Regions from separate parts of the Homo sapiens genome. Here region 2 is linked to region 1. Evidence: fine-mapped expression QTL. A gene starts in region 1. The other region holds a variant in brackets. All regions are shown on one strand. Distances are between the middles of the regions.

The links. PIP is the estimated chance that this variant, and not a neighbour inherited with it, causes the effect.
Region 2: its variant is the best candidate, but not a certain one, in a credible set for the expression of MAGOH in thyroid (GTEx, PIP 0.64).

What each region holds. Positions count from the first base shown.
Region 1 is chr1:53,233,591-53,242,270 of GRCh38, forward strand. It overlaps MAGOH (mago homolog, exon junction complex subunit), which reads right to left and starts at 4,928. Exons shown (of 5, transcript NM_002370.4): 1 at 4,771-4,928; 2 at 1,987-2,045; 3 at 1-62. The coding sequence starts at 4,858. MAGOH-DT (MAGOH divergent transcript) reads left to right here and starts at 5,020. Exons shown (of 3, transcript NR_038953.1): 1 at 5,020-5,755; 2 at 8,257-8,355. RefSeq lists enhancers at 4,581-5,222, 4,710-4,769, 4,810-4,939.
Region 2 is chr1:53,301,408-53,310,087 of GRCh38, forward strand. The region is part of intron 2 of LRP8 (LDL receptor related protein 8); the gene reads right to left. It overlaps LOC105378726 (a long non-coding RNA gene), which reads left to right. Exons shown (of 6, transcript XR_007066090.1): 4 at 1,480-1,571; 5 at 6,385-6,505; 6 at 7,991-8,049. Among named protein-coding and RNA genes, the nearest start is that of LRP8, 22 kb to the right of the region's middle. RefSeq lists enhancers at 6,360-7,177, 7,892-8,393, 8,394-8,680. The variant C/T (reference allele first, on the strand shown) is at 4,485.

The DNA.
Region 1 (8,680 bases):
GTAATTTCACTGTCGTCAATTATTCTCTTCAGTTCCTCCATCACGCTTTTATGTACATAAGCCTGAACGCAAGTTAAAAAACAAAATGTATGTTGTATCCTTAAGCAGTGCTTTGACTCAGATAGTGATGGAAGATAAAAATAACTGTTCCTGCAGACTTATTTCTGGCATCTCCTTAAGTGGGAAGACATTCATGCTCAACCTCGGCATGATGCAGGTGAGGGACACGGTCAGAAGTATCCAGTAACTGCACCTCAGTCCCCTATCTAGCTGTTACTACCTCCTGGTACATCCTGTTCACATGGCCCTTCTGCCTGCCCACATACCCAACTCACAACGAAACCCAAAACAGGTCTGTGAGTGCCCCCTGCCATGGTTTGAATGTTTTTGTCTCCTCCAAAAAAATCATACTGAAATTAATCCCCAAAGCAACAGTGTTAAGAGATAGGGCCTTTAGGAGGTGATCAGGCCTTGAGGGCAGAGGCCCCAGGGATAGATTAGTGCTTTAGGAGAGAGCTTAAGGGAACTAGCTGGCCCCTTTCTTGTTCTTTCACCATATGAGGACACAGCATTCATTCCTTCTGGAGGATGCAAAAACAAGGCACAGTTGTGGAAGCAGAGACTGGGCCCTCACTAGACACTGAACTTGCCAGCGCCTTGATCTTGGACTTTCCAGCCTCCAAAATTGTGAGAAATATATTTTTACTGCTTACAAATTACCCAGTCTCAGGCATTTTGTTGCAGCAAAAAAGAGACTGCGACACCCACATGCCCTGGTTATTCTTTTTTTTTTTTTTTTTTGAAACGGAGCCTTGCTCTGTCGCCCAGGCTGGAGTGCAGTGGTGCGATCTCGGCTCATTGCGAACTCTGCCTCCTGGGTTCATGCCATTCTCCTGCCTCAGCCTCCTAAGTAGCTGGGACTACAGGCACCCGCCACCATGCCTGGCTAATTTTTTTGTATTTTCAGTACAGACAGGGCTTCACCGTATTAGCCAGGATGGTCTCGATCTCCTGACCTCGTGATCCGCCCGCCTCGGCCTCCCAAAGTGCTGGGATTACAGGTGTGAGTCACCGCGCCCGGCCAGTTATTCTTAACTAGGTAATACACTCCTGAGGAGCAAAATGTATTTTAAAAGATATGCCTGTGTAAAAAAATAGTGAGGATATTGACATGTGTGAATAAGCATAAAATCAATAGCTAAAATAACAATATGAAAATATATGCTAAGACATTTTCAAAGGTGGCAAAGTGGTTAAAAGGAAAGAGTAGCTTTGATGAAGCCTTAATGATGTAGTAGAAATCACAGAACGGAGAATACAAACTTTACTGGGGCAGGATTGGGAATTCCTGCTGTATCTCTTACTAGCAGGGGTAACTCAGAACAAGCCTCATAATTAATACCTGGGCCTTTATTTTCTTATTTGTAAGGGGGCTATAATACCCTCCCCCATCACATGGGCTTACAATCAGGGTTAAATAAGATGCCACGCCTGACATCTAACATGCATTCAATGATGTCAACTGCTTTCCCATGCTCCCTTTCCCACTCAGATGTAAATTAAATAGCTCTTCATTGTGTACCATGTACACAGGGAATATAGAGCACTTTAAATAGAACATATTTAATTTTATGACAGCACTTGGGAGTGGGAGGTAGCTTTTATTATTCCTGTTTTTACAGGTGAAGAAACAGAGATTTATCAAGTTCAGCCAGGAACTTGCCCAAGGTCACATGGGGTAGTAAGCAGCAGACTCAGGGTTCAAACCAAGGTATGTCAAAGGTTACCAGTAATTGATTCCACAATGTAAAATAAAAAAATCCCAACTAAAAGATGATTTGGGAAATAATCCAGAAGCTGTCTACAGACATGTGTCTCTCTCCCTGTTCTTTATCTTTCAATACTACTAGAAACAATAAAAACAATGCAAGACAAAAAGCTGAAATGTAGCAAATGAAGGACTCTCAGAAGGCAGAAGGCTCATACCTCTTTTCTGATCATGACATCATTCTTGTAATTGCTGTTGTTGGCATATCTTAACTTCCCTGTGGGGGCAAAAAACAATTTCAACGTATAATAAAAACATATGAATAAAGCATCAATACCATGCCAAGGCATCAGCAGTTGCCCAAAATGTATCTAACTTGCTAAAAGTGTCTAACAGATTTATTATTTACTCTTAAGGTATTTCAACAATACTAGTCTTTTCAGTTCTTCACTTCAGGCTTAAACAGCCAAATATACAGCTGAAACTCAACTACTGCAAAAAGCAGCTCAGGTGGGGTATAAACACAGGCAGGCTCTTTTCTGACTTTGTCAAATCACATTTTTGCAGGTGAATGTCCTGAAAACAGGCCTAGTAACTGATAACTTACCGACACATAGGACCTCCTGAGGCTCAAATGAGCTGTGAAAACATTTTGAAAACTGTAGGATGCAGTTTACATATATTATCATGTGACTGTGCCATACTCTATTTCTGTGATGGAGAAGCTGCTGCTTTTATCACTGAGCACATTTGGTACACAAGACCCTTTGCCCATGTGTGCATCTGACAGATTAATGGTGGGGATGAGGAGAAGACAGAAGGAAATAGAAGACATGTAGACTAGAAGACATACATGTGAGATGAGCCCAGTGAATTTATTCCAACAGCCTCTGTGCTGTCTCTCTGCCTCAAGTTTCTTCACATTCAGTTCACTGTCCATACAGTGGACAAGGTGATGTGGTAACAGATCTATCAGATTAGGTTACTCTAATACTTTGATAAAGTCAATGGCTTTCCACTGCCTTCCTGGTAAAATCCAAACTCCTCAACATGGCATACAGCTAAGCTAAGCCCCTGCCTGCTTTTCCAGCCTCATTCCTGCCAATATTCTTCTCTCACACAGCTGAAGTCAAACTACTTGGTTTCTGCCTGAAACATCCCAAGCACTTTTTGGTTTTCAGCTTCTTTGCATGCTGTCTAAAATGCCTTCTTGACTCTTCTTCGTCTCCTAACCAATTCCTCACATCCCCTCCTCCCATCATTTTATGTAGGAAGCCTCCTCTGACCCTCAGGCTTGGTTAGGTGCACCCTTCTCTGCTGCGAGCCTCCTCTGTTTCTTTTTACCACAACACCTAATGTGCTGTTTTATCACTGCTTACAAATCTATCTCCCTCACAGTCGAGGCCTGTCAGATTCATCTTTGTGCCCCACTTAGTGGATGTCTTCTGTCATCTTTGATTGCTCTTTCCTTCACCACAGTGCCTCTGCCAACAAAATCCTATCAACGATCAAAGTCCAGTTGGTTCTGCCTCCAACAGTTTCCTAAATCTTTCTCTCCATTTCTACTATCTCTGTAGTCCCAACCAGTATCTTTTTTTTTTTTTTTTTTTGAGACAGAGTCTTGCTCTGTCACCCAGGCTGGGGTACAGTGGCACTATCTCAGCTTGCTGCAACCTCCGCCCCAGGTTCAAGAGATTCTCCTGTCTCAGCCTCCCGAGCAGCTGGGATTACAGGCGTCTGCCACCACACCCGGCTAATTTTTGTATTTTTAGTAGAGGCGGGGTTTCACCATGTTGGCCAGGCTGGTCTTGAACTCCTGACCTCAAGTGATCCGCATACCTCGGCCTCCCAAAGGGCTGAGATTACAGGCTTGAGCCACCGCGCCCGGCCCCCAACATCTTTCGTGTCTTGACAACTGCAACAGTCTCCTAATCAATAGCCCTGTTTCCACTCTTGCCCATTCCGCACCCAATAACCAGAATGCTTTTTCAAGAAGAGATCACATTTCTTCTCTGCTTAAAACCTTCCAAGCCCGGCCGGGCGCGGTGGCTCACACCTGTAATCCCAGCACTTTGGGACGCCGAGGCGGGCGTATCACCTGAGGTCAGGAGTTCGAGACCAGCCTGGCCAACATGGTGAAACTCCGTCTCTACTAAAAATACAAAATTAGCCGGGCGTGGTGGTGGGCGCCTATAATTCCAGCTACTCGGGAGGCTGAGGCAGGAGAATCACTTGAACCCGGGAGGCGGAGGTTGCAATAAGCCGAGATCGCGCCATTGCACTCCAGCCTGGGCAAAAAGAGCGAAAGCCGTCTCAAAAAAAAAAAAAAAAAAAAGGCCTTCCAAGTCCAAACTTTTTACCGTGGTCTATAAAGACCTAAGAGGTGCCGCTCCTACCTACCTATCCGACATCATCTCCTGCTATCTCCCAGCTCACCACTCTTCAACCACACTGACCACCTGAGACACGCCTAGCTCATTCCCGCCCTGCAGCCTTGACATCTGGTATTCCCTTTGTGTAGAATGGTCTTCCTTATGAGCTTCACAAGGCTGAGCCCTTCTTGTTAATTAGGACTCGGCTGCAATATACCCTTTACAGAGAGCTCTCTAATGGCCAACCTATCTAAAAGCAGCCCATCCAGCAATTATTCTACCATGTTATTTTTTGACCACTCACTGCTATCTGGAATCATCTTTTTGTTTATGATCTCTCTCCCGGCAGTAAAACACAAGTTCCACGAGAGGGGAAGTTTGTCTACCTTCGCTGCCGTATTCCCAAAGAGTGGAACAGAGCCTGGCACACAGTGGGCGTTCAGTCAACGTTTGCTGAATGGATAGAAAGACCCCGTGGAGCAGACACAGTGGCGTTCCTTTAAGATCTGCACTGCACAGGTCTCAGTCCCTCCCTCCTCTAGTTCCCCACAGATTTCCGACCCTCGGCCTCCCCACTCGCCGGCCCCCAGGCCTGGTCCCCGCTCCCGGCGGGCGGCAGGCTGCTTTTACCGTCCGGTCGAAACTCAAACTCCAGGAACTCGTGGCCGAACTTGCCCTTGTGCCCCACGTAGTAACGCAGATAAAAGTCACTCTCCATGGCTCCCAAAAGACAACCGAGCCTGAACTTCCAAGAGCAAGCCGCACTGCCGCCGTCTGCGCCCGACACTGACGTTTGCGGCGGCGCGCGGAAGTGACGTCAGGTCCCGTCGTCGCTGCGTGGAGGGGTTCCTTCTCGCTAACCTCTTCGCCCGGAAGTGGCAACAAGACTGCAACATCCCCTCACGCCTAGTCTGTAAAGAACTTTGTTTAACCCGGAGGCGGGGCCAGCCAGCTCCGCCCCTCCAGCTGGACGCGGGAGCGAGGTTGAGGTTCATACCCCTGGGTTCTCTCCAGGCCTGAGGCGGAGAGCCAGCCGCCTGCCTACCTCTGGGCTTTGAACCCCGGGTCTGGTGACTTCGCTTAAAGACCTCGGGCCGAAGGCCCGCCAGGCTCAACCTCGGTTCACAGGACCCCCGACTTGTGTGAGTCGTACACCGCTCTTTACCGTCTCTGGACCTAGGTCATCTCGGCAGTAAAATGGGGTGAAATGACCCGACCTCCCCGGAGGATGCCGCGCACGATGTGTGCCTCAAGTTGGCTTCCACTGACCTGAACTGTTAAGAAAGCCCTCCTCAGTGACGCCTTCCCTGAATCCACAGTGGAGATTGCCGTTTTCCTGGAACTAATTCACCCACACTTACCCATTTCATCCCTTTCCACCTTTTATTTCTACCTTTCTGCCCCACTGATCTCTAGAATAGGTGCTGGGAGACGTTAGAGTATTTGATCTCCCACTCCCCAGTCATCCCACTTACCGAGCAGTAATTCTCTGCCTGGCTGCACATTGCAATCACTTGGGAAGCCTCTAAAAATACTGATGCCAGGGCTCTACCCCAAGCCAGTTAAAATCTCCAGCGCTGGACCTGGGCATTGGTACTTTTTGTAAAGCTTTCAGGTGAGTCAGAGTTGAGGACCACTGACCAAAGAGGTCCTTTCTTTTCAGGGTAAAGTTGTCCTCTGTGAAGCCTTTCTGGCTCTGGAAAAAATTTACAGTTGAGTAGGCCCAGGGCAATCAAGATCATAATTATGTAATAGGAACCTGCTTTCACTCATCTAAGTTCCAGGCTTAGAAAGAATGAATGGTTCTAGAGACAGTGCCGAGATGACATCATTCTTGGGTCCTGGCGGCTAGAACTGTATACGATTCTGTAAGTTGGGACAGCAGTCTCTGATTCCTATTCCCAGTCTTTTCTTTTTGAGACGGAGTTTCGCTCTTGTTGCCCAGGCTGGAGTGCAATGGAGTGATCTCAGTTCACCGCAACCTCGCCTACCTAATTTTTAAACTTTTTGTAGAGGCAAAGTCTCCCTATGTTGCCCACGCTGGTCTCAAACTCCTGGGTTCAAGTGATTCTCCTGCCTTAGCCTCCCAAGTAGCTGGGATTACAGGCATGCGCCACCATGTCCAGCTAATTTTTGTAATTTTCTGTTTTTAGTAGAGACGGGGTTTCACCATGTTGGCCAGGCTGGTCTCGAACTCCCGACCTCAGGCGATCCGTCTGCCTCGGCCTCCCAAAGTGCTGGGATTACAGGCATGAGCCACCGCGCCCGGCCCTCAGTCTTAACACGGAGTCCTTTTCTCCCTGCAAAAGCATTAGCAGCAGAGTGTAGAGTAGGTGTGGTGGGGGAAAAATCACTGGACACAGGTTAAAATAATCCCTGTGTAACAATGACTCATTGTAACCAAAGGTGAACCGACTCAACTTTTTAGACTTCAGTTTCCTTCTCTTTAAAATGAGCATAATAATGTACACCTAGCAGAACTGTTGTAAGAAACAATGTCTCGGAAACTAAATTGCTGTAAAACCATAAGACATTTTTATTACAAAACACTGGATATGGGTGGTAACAAGGGAATTGTATAAACGAGAAGGGGGCTAGACACAGTGGCTCATACCTGTAGTCCCAGCACTTTGGGAGGCTGAGGCAGGAGGATCACTTGAGCCCAGGAGTTTGAGACCAGCCTGGGCAACATAGGAGACTGTCTCTACAAAAAATTTAAAAAATAGGTAGGTGTGGTGGTGCACACCTGTAGTCCTAGCTACTTGGGAGGCTGAGGTAGGAGGATAATTTGAGCCTGGGAGGTCGAGGCTGTAGGGAACCATGATCACACCATTACACTCCAGCCTGGGTGACAAAGCAAGACCCTGTCTCAAAAAAAAAAAAAAAGAGAAAAAAAGAAAAGGGACCAGGTATCAAGCACCTAATAAATGTCAGCCCCTAGGGTCAATGGGATTACCTGTGCTTGTTCTTTGAATCATCACAACAATCTTGAGGTGGTAATTAGAGTTAAGTATGTAGAGGGATTAAGCAATTGCTACAAGGTTATTTTCCAGGAGTAAAATTATAAAAATCATAAGTGAATCTGGGGATCTTCAGATGTGGCAAATAACAAAAGTGTTGAGAAATTTAAAGGACACACAACTCCAGTCAGGCTGTGAAGTAATCCAGGTTTCTGGATATGAGACATGGTGTAACTGAAAGAGCATGGTCTGTGTGTCTGCAGTGCCTGCATTCAGCATCATTTATTTGAGCATCCACTGAGTGTCATGTGCAGAGAGGATACAATGTTGAGCAAGACAGTTGTTCACAGAGCTTGCAGAGGAGGCAGTTAAGGAGCATACAAGCAATTACAATGTAAGGATAAGATTACCAATAAAGGAAGCACAGAGGACTATGGAAGCACATGAGGTGACTCCTAATCCAGTGCAGGGTCCTTAGGGAAATGTTCCTGAAGGAAATGTTCCAGACGGAGGCCCAGAACTGTGTGATTAGAATATAGAGTAGTGAGTGATGAAGCTGGAGACAGGGCAGAAGCCAAATCATGAAGGGTTTTATAAGCCATATTAAAAGAGTTTGGGCAAACCCAAGAATATTGGATTTTTGTGCCAGCAAAGCAGTTGAAGAGCTTTAAGCAGGAAAGTGGAAAGAAGTGGTGGTGATACATCTATGGTACTTTAGAAAGACACTTTGGCTGCAGTCTTGTAGGTTAGATTGGAAAATGAAAAGACTAGAAGTATGACATTCAGATAAGTAGTTTAAGTAATCTATTAGCTGGGCAGGGTGGCGTGCACCTGTAGCCCCAGCTACTCGGGAGGCTGAGACAGGAGAATTGCTTGAGCCCAGGAGGCGGAGGTTGCAATGAGCTATGATCCTACCACTGTACTCCAGCCTGGGTAACAGAGTACGACCCTGTCTCTTAAAAAAAAAAAAAAAAAAAAGTAATGGAGATAGAAAAGTGGATGGATTTGAGATGGAATACCATAATTTAAGGGGTAGGCAAAGGATACTAAGATGTGGCCAGAGAGATAGGAGAAAAAACATGAAATGTTATCATGGAAGCCAAAATAAGAATATGCCAAGAAAAGAGTGGCTAACAGTGTTAACTACTGCTTCCAGGTCAAGGAAGAGCAAGACTGAAAATGTTTACCAGATTTATAATCGAGGAGGTCCTGGATGACCTTGGCAAAAGCAACCCCAATGGCATGGGAATGAATGGTAAGGCAGAAGTATTGGGATGCAAGTAGGCAAAAATTGTTATCGAAGTACAGAGGTGAGTTATCTAACCTAGTCTTAGAGAAAAGGGAAGGCTTCCTGGAGGAGGCATTACCTAAGTGGAGTACTCAAGGACAAATAGGAGTTAGTCATGTGGAGGCAGAGAAGGAAAATTTAGGCAGAGAATGCTACATGTACAATTGCTCTTTGGGGGCACTAAAAATAACCTTGTGACTTTGGGCAGTTACTTTGCCCATTTTCTCATCTATAAAATGGGAGTGGATAGTATTGATAGTATTTATCTCACCGAATTGTTGACAAAGATTGG
Region 2 (8,680 bases), 68 kb after region 1:
TTAGGAAGCAAAGACCTTAAAAGGCATGAACTGGCCAGGCATGGTGGCGCACGCCTGTAATGCCAGAAATTTGGGAGGCCAAGGCAGGCAGATTACTTGAGCCCAGGAGTTCAATACCAGCCTGGACAACATGGTGAAACCCCATCTCTACAACAACAAAAATACCAAAAAAAATTAGCTGGGCATGGTGGTACACATCTGCAGTCCCAGCTACTTGGGAGGCTGGGGTGGTCGGCTGGCTTGAGCCCGGGAGGTTGAGGCTGCAGTGAGCCATGATCATGCTACTGCACTCCAGCCTGGGCAACAGAGGGAAACCCTGTCTTAAAAAAAAAAAAAGGCATTGATTGTCCCAAGGTCATGTAGCTTGAGGCAGGACCAGAACGCAGGTTGTTTCATCCCGAATGCTGTGCAAGCAAAGGAAAAAGTGAGAGGTGGACCTTCCTTCAGAGAGTCTATAGCCAAACTGAGGAAAGGAGAACCCCAGGTGTAACAGCCACAACCCAGAACAAAAGGAGATGCGTCTTGGTTAGACTCTGGGGTGGTGACGTCACTCATCTCCCCTCTCTGGACCCCAGTGCCTCAGCTGTAAAACAAGGACACTGACCTTGGTGGTCTCCAAGCCTGCATCTCCCTTGCCTGTGAGTAAGGTCTGCTGGAGGGAGAGGAGGCAGGCCTGGGGAGGGCTCACTGCCTGGAAGAGAGACATTTTAAGCTGGTCCTCAAAGAAAGGGGGTGATTTTGGCTGGCAGTAGTAGGGGCTGAGGAAGCCTGCCCCGAGGAACTATGTTTGATCCAGAAGGAAAAGGTGGATTCTGAAAGCAGATGGAGAAGGCTGCTTCTGGCTTCTCAGTGCGTTTGGAAGGAAATGGGGTCCATTCTCTGAAGCTCTTTAACCGCCCCAGGATTGGTTCCAACAGGGAGGTGTAAGCGTGTGGTCCACAACCCCCACCCAACAAGCAGATTCCCAGCCTCGGGCTCACGTTAGACCGGAACCTAACATGATGTGGGCTTGGAGACCACCAAGGTCGGTGTCCTTGTTTTACAGCCGGGGCACTGAGGCCCAGAGAGGGGAGATGAGTGACGTCACCACCCCGGAGTCTAACCAAGACCCATCTCCTTTTGTTCTGGGTTGTGGCTGTTACACCCAGGGTTTTTGTTCCTCAGTTTGGCTATAGACTCTATGATGAATGTCCACCTCTCGCTTTTTCCTTTGCTTGCACTGCATTAGGAATGAGATGACCTGGGTTCTGGTCCTGCCTCAAGCCATATGACCTTGGGCCAATCAATGCCTTTTTTTTTTTTTTGGAGACAGGGTTTCCCTGTTGGCCAGGCTGGAGTGCAGTAGTATTTCAGCTCACTGCAGCCTCAACCTTGCAGGCTCAAGCCATCCTCACACCCCAGCTTCCCAAGTAGCTGGGACTGCAGGCGTGCACCACCACACCCAGCTAATTTTTTTTTTTTTTTGGATTTTTGTTGTAGAGACAGTTTCATCATGCTGCCCAGGCGGCCTAGAGCCGTACTACAGCAGGTGATCCAGAGTCAGGGCCTGGGAACAACCTGTATGATTATAGGTGAGTGACTTAACCTCTCAGAGCCTCAGCTTCCTCAACAATAAAATGGGGCTAACCACCTCAGAGGGTGGGAATTAAGAGAGGTTGTAATGTTGAAATTCATGGTGAAATTGCACATCACCACAAAAGCAGGTAGAGCTCTTGTCAATCATGCGGCTTATTTCTTACCACCACCACTCCCCCACTGCTCCAGCTTTCCTACAGGGACTTTGGGGAGAGCTGGGTTGCCTCCCCGTTCGAATGGGAGAGGGCCGGGGGCAGACAGGCAAGGGGCATGGCTTAGCTGGAAAAGCATCTGGGTCCAGTGAGGTGGTGGGGAGCAGCCAGTCCTCACAGGGCCTGTGGGAGGCTCTGGTGGAGCCAAGGGGGCTGCAGGCTGAACACACCTGGGCCCCAGGGCCATGTGGCCCAGCCCTTGGATTTCATACATGAGAAAAGGGGCCACAGCAGCCTCGCGCTCCCATGGCAACCTCAGCAAAGCAATTGCACTCCTCCCAAGACCCAGTCAGGAACAAAACTGCCGCTGAAGAGACTGGAGGAATCATAAGATAGTCTTCGAATCACAGAACAGAATCTCCCTGTCTCAGGATCTGAGAATCGTAAAACACACAATTTACAAGTACTTAGGCTCATTCCGTTGAACGTTAGGACCAAGGAGCCACAGAATCTTTCCAGTTTTAAATCACAAATCTTAGACTCACAAACAGAACAAAACCCTAGAAGCTTCTAATCTAATCCAGGCACCAGGAGTGGCAAAGGCCTGCCCCTTTCCCCCAACCCCCACCAGTGCTGGAATCCTCTGTTCCCACCGCTGACATATGGCCATTCGCCCTCTTGAATGCTCTCAGCGACAGGGGACTCAGTCAGCCGTGCTGGCTGGAGGCTGAACACGTTCCTTCCTCTTGAACGGGGAGGGAAATAAGCTCTCAACAGGAGATCCCCACTTTGTACAAATGGATTTTTCACCCCTCCTTGTTCTTTGGCTCGGTCAGAAAGACTCCCAGGGAAGTGGAAAGGAGCCAAGAGCTGCCATGAAATGACTTTACCCAGCAGACAGGCTGGTGATAGGTTTCGGTGGGAAAAAGAAAGGAAAGGGGCGATGAATTCCAACTTGCTGAGCGATAAAGGAAATTAAGGCATAATACCGAGGAGGCAGCAGTTCTATTAACCTGGGTGGAATACCAATTACTCCAGCCTTCTCAACATTGCTCCAAGTGAAGAGAAAACCCCCAAAGAGAGTGTGATTGTGGCCCAGGGCTCATCTGGATTAGACTGTTTGTTTGCCCTGGCACCCTAATGATGGGAATGAGGGAAAATTCCCCGTTTCCTGGGAGACAGCCATGCCAAAGTGGGGGAGGAAAGGCAGGCCCACGCGCAGCCACTGGACTGCTTGGCAAATGCTCAGGGCAGAGGGGGTCCCCAGGCCCACTGCAGAAAGGCTCAGTGAGGGGCCACCAGCAGCCTCCCCTCACCTGGCCCTGTCCAGGACACCTCCTCTGGTCCCATGTTCTGGGAAGGCCAAGCTTCTGCTGACTCCTATGCTACCGGGAAAGTCTCAGGTCTCTGCTGCTGGAAGCCAAAATAATCAAGCAGCAGGCCAACTGTGCGTGAGGGACCCTGCTAGATGCTGGCACGCCCTGCAGTTAGGTAAGACCTTCGGAGGTGGCCATGTCTCCAGGTGTTGGTTCTGGCAGGGCCGGGGTTCAGGGCTCTGGCCGGGACCACCCACCCATCTGAGGCCAGCCCCAGGGCCAGCAGTATGGGGATGGTTCATGGCCACAAGCCCCAGCTCAGCACCTCCAACCAGAGCTGGGCAGAAGGGGACAGACATGGCTGTGGGAGGCAAGAAGAGGAAAGGTGTGGGGTCATGTGCCCAGCAAACCCTCACCGCCCACTGGCATCCTGGCCCAGACCTCAGCCACACCGGCCACTTCTCAGAGCCCCTTACAGAGGGGTGCCCATCAGCCTAGGGGTTCTGAGCCAGCATGGCTCCCCCAGTAAGACAGGTCCCACTACAGCTTGAAGAGGAAGCCACTTTTAAACAGCCTGCCCAGTGAGCACTGCTGGCTGCCTGAAGATGATTCCACTCACCTTGGTTTTTCCTGCAAGTGAACCTTCCTCCCAGAACTAAGGTTTGGAAGATCCCAGTCTGCTGCCTGACATGGCCATTCTCCCACAAAAACAGGTGAAGGAACGCAGGACTCAAATCACGCCTTTGTCCCTTACTAGCTAAGCGACCTCAGGCAGGCTACCTGACCGCTCTGAGCCCATGTTTCCTCATTTAAAAATGTGGTGGTAGATCCTGACTCGGAGGGCAGTTGGTTGCTAGATCACGTCTATCAGTGCCCGACATAAGGGATGGCACACAGAAAATATTCAGTGACCGAAGTTCCTCCTCCCTTTATCCCAGCCGCTGTGGCAGCCCCACCACCAGGCTTTGTACACAGTGAGTCCTTAAGAGGTTTTTGTTGCAATTTTTAAAGGGCATCTGGAGGCCTAGCCTCTGTCATCCTGGGCCACCTGGTTCTTCTGTGACTTGTTTTCTCCATGTATAAAGTAGAAGGCCTGTTCCTTGGAGAAAAAGGTCAAGGCGGGTGGAATTATTACCTGGCAGCCAGCGGGGCTCACAGTGCAGGCTACTTCAGAAGCCTCGTCCCTGGCTAACACCACAATGGTTATAACGCCAAGCGGGGCAGCTGAGACTGGCCCACCTGGACACACAGGCAATGAGTGGAGGTCACAGGAGGTCTGGCCACCAGCTTCCCTGCACCTCCACCCCTGCCCCCACACTAGTCTCTCCTCAGCCCCACAGGGAGCCAGGGGCCTCTAGAATGGCCTCTCCTCCACCCACGTGCATGGGCCCTGGCACAGGAGAGGCGCTGAGGAGGAAGCTGGAAGGCACCCAGCCACCCA[C/T]TCCAGGGTGAACGGTGAGCCTGCCCAAGCATGAGCTCTTATGAGGCCCAGACTGCCAGGGGGCCAGGGTGTCTGAGGCGCACACATTCCTCACTCTCTGGGAGTTGGGAGTGGAGGACCCTCCTCCCCTTCTCTATTCTATTGGGAAGCTTTCCACGACCCCATGTGGGATCAGAGACCTCTTCTGATCCACAGCCTCATCATCCTGTGTTGGTGGCACTCAACCATCTTTCTCTACCAGACTAGCAGCTCGGTGGAGGCAGGCACTGAGGAAGCGTGTGCTGAAGGCATCGCATGCAGGCAATCTGGAAGCCTGGGGCTTTTCCATCTATACAGAATGTACAGCCCAGGACACAAACCCTATTTACCCTCCAGCATTCTGCATACCTAGGAAAAGCAGTAATCATTGAAGCCTTGCTTCAGATCCTCCATTCATGCAGGAAGTGGGGCTCTGGTCTGTTCTAGTGCTGTCTAGCTGGGTGGCACTCCCACATCCTTTTCTCCAGGCATGTGAACTAGCTCTTGTGTCCTCTTTCTCTTGCCAAAGACAGTGGTATGGTACCAAGGAGAACAGAGCCAGGGGCCAGGAGGCCTGGGTTTTGGTCCCAGCTCTACCCCCCGAGCTGCTGCGTGGCTTTGAGTAAGCCACTCCCCCTCTCTGGGCCTCAGCGTCAACACCAGTTGAGGGGTTGGATCCCACTGCTCCCTGGGTCTGTTCCTGCTTTACTTCACTGCCATGAGCCATGTGTCTGGGGCTGGAGTTGGAGGAGAGTGCTGGCACCAGGCAGATGGTTCTGAGGACAGGTTCAGAGTCTGCAAGGCTGGGAGGGCACCTGCCTCTGTCCTGGGTCCCACCTCCTGGCCTGCTCCTCAGGAAACCCTGGGACACATGAACTTGGGCCTCAGCTTTGGCTCTGATCGTATTGTGATGCCATCTCTGGGCCAGGCCCTCATCTGTCTACATCACCTCACCTCATCTCCTGGTTTACGAAGCCCTTTGTATATGTCTCCTCATTTAGTTCTTACAATCACCCCTGAGGTTCAGAGAGGGACAGGATGGGCCCAGGTCACACAGCAGTCAGAGGACTATCAGGCCCAGCATTCTCCAGCAGCCCTGATATCTCCTCCTTGAAACAGGAAGAACACAGGATGTGCAGTGGGAATCCTGACCTTGCCCCCTGAGCAATACTGAGTAGGGGGGGTGGTACTCTCTCAGAACCACTTTGAGCCACCATGAAAATCTAACAGCATAAAGATGCCAAAAGCATAGGTGCCAGCCAGGGCAGCAGCCCGCTGGAACAGAAAGAGCACCACGCAGGGAGCCCCAGAGCCCAGGCTCCAGTTTTGGGTTTTCCCATCTGTCAAATGAGGGCAAGGATGCCTGCCCTGCCTCACCCACTGAAGGCCAGCTGTGCACTTGCCACACTTACCCCGTCCCACCTTCTACACAGCTGTCTGTGCCCACCACCTCAGCCAGGAGGAGTCACGAGCCCCTTCCCTATCTGCACACAGCTCAGCCTGGCTCACTGCACCAAAAAGGCAGGCCTGAGCATGGACCACACACAGAGGTATGTTCAGACAGACGTGCAGACACTCAGGCACATGCACACAGCGCATGTACTTGCAGATGGGCACCCGTGCATACAGCAAGGCACACACCACCCACTTGCACACTCAGGTGTGCGCCACATACTGAACATACTCAGACACGCATGTCATGCTGGACACACACTGCAGCACACAGACCGCATACCCACACATGCACAGTTGGCTTCATATGATGCTCACACACTGCAGACAAATATGCATAGATTTTCTTGCCTCTCCCATGACAGCCAGATGGTGGGATTCTCCCAGAGGGCTGCCATTTAATGCTCTAATTAATTTTTTAAAATTCTAGGTACCCAAAGCCTGGGTTTGTTCAATTGGTCCAGGCACGACCCAGTCTGAGGCCAAGGCGGGAAGCAGGACCTAGGACGAGGGTGTCCCACTATACCCAGGAGAGGCTTCCCCCTCACCTGGTGAGTAGATACCTAGCCTAGCAAGGGGCTGGGGTCACAGGCCCAGAATCTGAGCCTGATCCTGGTTCCAACAGTGCTCCTATGACCCAGGACAGGGAGAGACCCCTTCCCAGCAGCCCTGGCGGAGTGGTCTGGCCCCAGGTGCACACCTCAGGATGCAGGGCGCTCAGTCCCTGCGGAGGCTGCTGGCTCTCCTATCAGACTGCACTGCAGCGAGGCTTTCCTGACATGGAGGTGGGCTCGGGGCTGCACATCCAAATCCAAACACACCTTTGCTGAGCCCTACTGTGCAGGGCACACTTCAAGGCACTGTGGGAGGACAGCGCAGGGAACGGGATGTTCACAGAGCACAGAGCTACCAGAGAGTTAGTGCTGAGACAGTGCTCACCGCATCTCCAGGCAGTATGCTCCGAGCAGGCCAGAATTTCATTCTCACCCAGGTCTCCTGGGGAGCCCCACCTTATTCTCTAGGCCATGAGGATCCTGGGGGGTTCAGGCTAGCAGGAACCAAGCATCACTGGCCCTCCAGGTCTCTCCTCTGCCTTTCCTGGGGCACCGTCTTTGCTGCTAAATGTTTGGAAAAAGCAGCAATAAATTTACTGCCTCACTTATGAGCAATTTGCTGTCAGGAGCCATGTGTAAGCAGAGGGCTGAATTAACAAGGCTTAATTAACATTAATGTGACGGATCTCAAGTGAGTCGGGAAATCCCCCATCCTCACCGCCCGGACCTTGCCTGCTGATTCCCTGCTCATGTGGGAGGTGAGAGGCCCAAGGAGGGCTCTCAGAGCTGCTGACAGACGTGACTGGGGGCTGGAGGCTTGCAGGAGATCAGCACAGGAAGCCAGAGCCTCTGCAACTCCAATTCCAAAGGAGCTCTCACACTAAGTCCTTTATCCCTTGCCTGGTGCACTGGCTAACACGTGGACCTTGGAGTGCAAGAGACCCGCTTTTAAATCCTGCTGCTGCCACTCCTATGCTACGTGACCCTGGGTGTTTCCCCACCTCTCTGTGCCTCACCATCTCTATCAGTAAAGAGACAGGACAGATCCCCCCTCAGAGGGCTGTTAAAGGATCCATGGGCCGGGCACGGTGGCTCACACCTGTAATCCCAGCACTTTGGGAGGCTGAGACGGGCAGATCACCTGAGGTCAGGAGTTCGAGACCAGTCTGGCCAACATGATGAAACTCCATCTCTACTAAAAATACAAAAATTAGCTGGGCATGGTCGCAGGCGCCTGTAATGCCAGCTACTTGGGAGTCTAAGGCAAGAGAATCACTTGAACTCAGGAGGCGGAGGTTGCAGTGAGCCGAGACCATGCCATTGCACTCCAGGCTGGGCGACAGAGTGAGACTCCATCTTTAAAAAAAAAGAATTCATGAAGTCATGCATGGAGAGCAGAGGTGCTTCCCACCCCACTCCCCATAAGCATAAGCGTCATTGATGATAGTGCGTGGGGCTCATCATCTCATTTAATCTTCCCAGCCAACAGCCCTTTGAGGTAGGGCCTGCCAAGACGCCCCTGTGCAGAAGAGGAAACCAAGACACTGAGAGGGGAGGTGGCTCATCCAGCCCACATGCTGTGTGACGTTGGGGGAAGAGGCTCCAGTCACCCACTACAGTCACTGGCAGGAGCCCCTTGAAGGATCCAGAGAGCCACGGTGAGGGGAGAGGTCAGGCTGCGGGGCCATGCTGTGGACCAGTGTACCCTTGGACAGTGGGCATCTCGTCAGAGAGGCCAGGTCCCTGTTTTTCAATGACTAAGGCATTACTAAGCTGCCCCCTGAGGGCCCAGCCTGTGTCAGGCTCCGGGGATGAGATAAAGGTGGTGAAAGCTGTGCCCCTGCTCTCAGGATGGATTCCACCTCCGACTCCTCTCAGCTGTCCCCAGGGCACCCAGCCCAGCCCTGGCACGGGGCAGGCACACCTTCATTTATCATCAGTGATCGCCGTTATTCATATGAATGGGAGGATGCTTCTGAGCAGAACCAACTTTGAGCAGCAGCAGAAAGGAAGCCCAGCCCCACCCACCTACCCCGACGCTTCACCAGAGATGGGAGTCCCCACGCCCCCAGCCATAACCCTGCACGTCTCGGATCACTGGACTGACCTTTCCTGTCAGTTTAGCGGCCTTGAGCTCTGCCCCGGAGCATACCCACACCCTGGCCTTCAGGG